2 separate regions of the Homo sapiens genome follow, and region 1 is linked to region 2. Evidence: fine-mapped expression QTL. A gene starts in region 2. The other region holds a variant in brackets. All regions are shown on one strand. Distances are between the middles of the regions.

Region 1 (2,500 bases), 35 kb before region 2:
ATTCCCAAGGGTGTTGGTCAAAGTTGCTGAGGAGGCAGAGCCCCAGGGTAAGTGTGATATGTGGCGGGAGTCACGTGACTGGAGGTGGTGCCTTAACAATGCTCAAAGACTCCCAGTCCTGGGACAGAAAATTCCAAGATGGTGGGAGCATTTGCTCCGAAAGGGCCTGGAGCTCCTGTGTCCTGCTCCCTGGCTTCACACCCAGACCCAGAAAGGGAGGCCGTGGGCACCCTCAGCACCTGGGTCCCACCTGCTCTCACCTTGACCCCATAAGCTCTCCTGCCCAACTGGGAGGACTGGCCTCTTCCAAAGCCCCAGTCCACTTCTGTTTCAGCTGAGAACTGTCTCCTATTTGTTTTTGTGTTAAATCTTGCTGCTTTTAAGTAACCTGCACCCCTGCTCCCCACCAGCCAGTGTCAGTCGCTGAAGGGAAATTAACAAACAGCATGATACAGGTGTGTTGTAGATTGGAAGCTGTCAACACAGACACAGGCCTGGCCAGGAGCTTGCACGCCATCACCATGCGAAGAAAGCACAGTGTGAGAAACCCCTCCTAGTTTCAGCTCCAGAGGATCCCCAGGAACCCAAGGCCGACACCCTTGCCTGGTTTGCCTTTGCTTTGTTCAGCAAGGTGGGTGCACTCTGCACTCCTAGCCGCTGGCACTGCAGCCTCGGACCCACACCTGTAGGCTCAAGGGCTTGTGAACCCCTCTGCAGCAGGCTCAGGCTCTTTCCTGGGAGGGACATGAGAAACTGGGGGTAGTGGGGAGAGATCCCAGTGGGGAACCTCTGCCTATGGCCAAAAAGATGGTTTTCAAAAATATTCATCCTTTAAAAAAACATATTTGGGTTGTTACTGCTTGAGCTGGGTGGCCCTGTGGGGCAGGACCTTGCCCATAGTCACTCCTCCAGCTGAGCCAAGTTGCCTTCGAGGCTCTGGGCCCCCTTGGTCAGGATGCTGCTGTGCTTCTCCCCTGGTCACCACAGGCCAGGAAAAGGTGTGTGGGGCTGTGGCC[G/C]TGGCCGGCCTGGGCTGGGAACCTTAGGATACAAGGCCCAGGGCCCCCAGTCGACTCTGGTTTCATTATTAATGAAATTAGAGAAAGTACCTGAGCTGAGGACATGTCCACCACGAGGTGTGATGAAGCAGGGATTAGGGTGAGCTGCAGCCAGGCTCCTGGGCTGGCCTAAGCTTGTCCACTATCCAGACGGGAGCCACATGCAGAGAGAAGAAACACCTTTCACTCTGCCCTGGCCAACACTGGGTGTCCCCCCTGAGATGCCCAGGGCCATGCACCCTAGCTGACTGTCATTCCAATCCCTCCAGAAACTAGACTGAGCCAGTGGGGCCTCAGGTGAAGAGGGCTATGCATCCGGTCAGCACAGAGCCTTGCTGCTGCATCCTGTCCTCACTGCTTGTCTTGTTCATGGCCAGTCACAGGACTCCCCTGAGTGGCAGATCCCCCCATCTACACTGGTTACTAGGGATCCCCAAGTCAGCAAGGCCCCCAGCACTCTTAGCCTCCACCTTGGAGTCTGTTCTAGATAGTGGAAAATTGTTTTTCAGTTACTGGATTATACAAATCCCTTAAAACAATAGTAATCTGTGTCTTAAAACCCAGAGCTGTTCTCATGTGTGTGTACTGAGCAGAGCTAATGCGCTCAGGAAATTAATTACCCACTGGCCTGGGCAAGCCTAGCCGATGCAGGTTGAGGGGATGTGGGGTGGGAAGCAGCTCTGCCCTGAAGCTCTTGGAACAGTTCAGACAGGGTATCATTGTGAGCATCCAGCCTGATCACGAGGCAGAGCAGGAGGTGTATAAACTGGGAGGGACACAGTCCTGGGGCTGAACCCTGGCTCCGTCATCACAGGGCGCTCAGGCAGCGACACCCACCCTGGGCCACACTGGGGACTGGACACTGTGCCTGCGACCTTGCCCTGCCTGCTTAGACCTTACACCGCCTGGTCCTCCGTCATCCCGCTGCAGGGCACTGTGCATAGCTCTGTGCTCTCCATGGCCCCCGACAGCCCCCTCAGTCCTGCCTTTGTTGACTGTCCCCACTGCTCCCCCACAGCCTTGACTGGATTCTGCAAGGTCCAGATCAGATCACCACCCCCACGTTCATCCCAATCTGTGCAGGCCTGCTCCCAACGTCTAGGCCCCCGTCTCTCCTGCAAATGTTGGTCTTTGGGACAGAGGAGGCACCTGTTCCTGGCTTCTCTGCACCTAGAAAACTGTTTCCTAGGGCAGGCTCAGGGCCAGTCACAGAGAGCATGCGGCCAGCATTTGTAGGCACTGGGGAAGCCAGCCTGAGGCCAGCCCTGGCTACACAGGTCCTCCAGGGCCTGCTTGATGCCATCCCCAGCTGACCTGAGGGAGGAAGGGATAGGACTGCCTCTGTCCCTAGACTGAGTTTGTCAGGCCCAGGGCCCACACATACTGGGTGAACAAGGACTGCTTCCTGCAAGGATGCCACAGGGCTTGTTCTCAGATGGAGAACA
Region 2 (2,500 bases):
AGCTCAATCCCCAGGGCAGGGAAATCACTTGGGCAGAAAGGAGCCGGTCAGGGGCTCAGCTGTCTCCCCAAGCAAGACAGACCTCTCTACCAGGCGGGTCCCTCCACCCCAACACGGACTACGCGGAACGCTGGTCTCGCTTGGCATCATCCTCTTGTCTCAGTTAACAGGAGCCCCCATTCTCGGCCTAGGCCGAATCCTGCCATCATCACCCAGGAAGGCTCAGCACCGCCCTAAAGGCAGAGCCCCCTCGGATCGCCCGCAGGATACGGAGCGCCAGCCCTGAGGCCCTCACTCCCCTCCCCCAAACACCCCCACCGCCTTTTAAGGGAAAAAATATTGAGCCGGGAACGTATTACAATCGCAGCAGGTCGATACTCATCTCTTCCTCTAAATGCCTGTGAGGAACCTGCTCGCTGCAAGAGCAGTGACCGAGAACTGCTAGCTGTCCGTCTGCGGGCCCAGGTCCTCGGGCCCAGGCCTCTGGGGCCCTCTCCTCGGTTTCAGGCAAGGCCCTGCATCGGCTCCGGCCGCCCCTCCCTGATCCTCCCCCTAGGGAGACCCGCCTCAGCGCCGCTCCCGCAGCTCGCCTGGCCCGCCCGGGCTCCGCATCAGCCGCTGCTTGGGGGCGCCCGGCGGCCCCGCGCGGCATCCCCGGCGCCCTCTGTCCACCCTCCCGGGTCCTCAACCGCCCCCTCCCGCGGGGTCATCGGCTTGGCGGCGCATCCCTCCCCCAGCACCTGCCCGACCAGAGGCCGCCCCCTGCCCACCTCGCAGGCGTCCCCGCCCTTGGTGTCCCCCACCCCTGAGGGGCATCCCTGACGCTGCGTCCTGGCGGATCCGGGGCACAAAGGCCTGGGAAGAGTCCCAAGTGGGGGCAAGGTGGATGCCCCGGCCGTGCCCCCGACCCCTGAGGCTCAGCGGCGCGCGGCCGGCCGCGGGTCGGCTCACTCACCTCCGGGCCGCAGCACAGAGCATCTGCCGAGCTGCTCCGGGCAGGGCGGGGCGGGGCGGGGCGGCGAGCACGGGGCCGCGGCGCCCTCGTTCCGTACGACGCGGGCAGCGGCGCCCACGCGGGGACGTGACCGGACCGCGGGCGGCGCACACGCTCCGGCCGGCCTGGTTCCCTCCGCCCGCCCTCCCGCGCCGCCCGCCGCCCGCCGCCCGCCGCCAGTCCGCGGGTCCGCCCGCCCCGCGCCGCGCCGCCGCCGGCAGGGGGCGGAGCCGCGAGCGCAGCCCGTTGCCAGGCCAACCGCGGGCGGGGGGGTGCCGCGCGCCCGCCGGGCACCACGCGCCGGGCACCTCCGCCCCGCCACGAGCGCCGGCCCTCTGTCCATTGGGCACAGGCAGCTGACGGACGGGCCAGTAGCCCAATGGGGACGGACAGGGGCGGGGTCGCAGCTCCGCGCGCGCCGCAGTCCCGCAAGAGCTCCCCGCGCCGGCGTTCCACCGACTCCGCTGCGCTGAGGCCTGGTAGCCGAGCCCCAGGGGCCACCTCTGGCAGCCCGGGAAACCAAGCCTGAGCCCAGCCATGGTCCTGGCCCTCTTTACTGCAGCCAGTCCCGGCTCGCCTTCTCTCCACTCGGGTTCAAACCCAGTTCGGCCTCTTGTGAGCTCTACGTCCTTGGGCAACCGACTGACCTCTCTCAGCCTTTCTGTTTGCAAAGTGGGGCTAGTGGCACCTGCTTTCCTGGATTGTCTCACCAATCCTTCAGAACGTGTGAAAGGCCTATGCAAACCCTAACGATTTACACCGGTGAGGTTTGTGCAGCGATGGGAGGGAGCATTAGTCATCTCTGCCGCCGCCCCCCGCCGCCACCGCCCAGTGTCTAGGGGCTCTTTGGCGTCCCTGGCAATCCTGGCACACGGAAGGGTGGCCTTGGGAGGGAAGGAAGGGAGAAGGACCGAGGAGCTGGCCCCCAGCCCAGACAAGCGTGAGAGAGCCAGTTCAGTTAAGGCCACTGATTGGCGCTTTTGGGAAGCTGGTGGAAAGCATCAGACCCTCAGCAAAACGCAGCTGAACCCAGGCTGCAAAATTCTGTTTTCAATTTCAAAGCCTATCTGTGGACCTCAGGGCCAGGAGTCCCTCAGTTCCATGCTTAAAAGACTCTCAAGCCAGAGGGCCAAGACATGAATGCTCCTGTCTCTCTTCTCCATCTTTGTAAATCTGAAGCTTTGTGTATCCTAGAGCATCCCTGACAAAGTGCAAATGCCTTCCCAGCTAACGCGTTCCTTATCACCTCACACCTTTGTAAGGTGTGGATCATGCCATTCTTTGAGCAGCAGCCCTGGACCTGACCATGGCAGAGGTCCATGGAGCGGTCTCTCCATCATAGCTCTGTGGTGGAGGGGCAGGGGCATGTGCCTGGCTTTGCCAGCTGGACACTGTGGCATCTCAGCATCATCCCATAACCTCCCTAGGAATGTTTCCTCTTCTGTGAGATGGAGACCATTGCGTTACGTACCTGCAGGGTCATGGGCCACCTGTGAGGGTGCTGCC

The links. PIP is the estimated chance that this variant, and not a neighbour inherited with it, causes the effect.
Region 1: its variant is fine-mapped to the expression of GNAZ in whole blood (TOPMed, PIP 0.95).

Annotation. Positions count from the first base shown.
Region 1 is chr22:23,103,677-23,106,176 of GRCh38, reverse strand. The region is part of intron 4 of RSPH14 (radial spoke head 14 homolog); the gene reads left to right. All of the region lies in intron 2 of GNAZ (G protein subunit alpha z), which reads right to left. Among named protein-coding and RNA genes, the nearest start is that of GNAZ, 34 kb to the right of the region's middle. The variant G/C (reference allele first, on the strand shown) is at 1,017.
Region 2 is chr22:23,069,026-23,071,525 of GRCh38, reverse strand. It overlaps GNAZ (G protein subunit alpha z), which reads right to left and starts at 1,007. Exons shown (of 3, transcript NM_002073.4): 1 at 956-1,007. All of the region lies in intron 4 of RSPH14 (radial spoke head 14 homolog), which reads left to right. RefSeq lists an enhancer at 1-306 and silencers at 913-1,052, 1,193-1,332.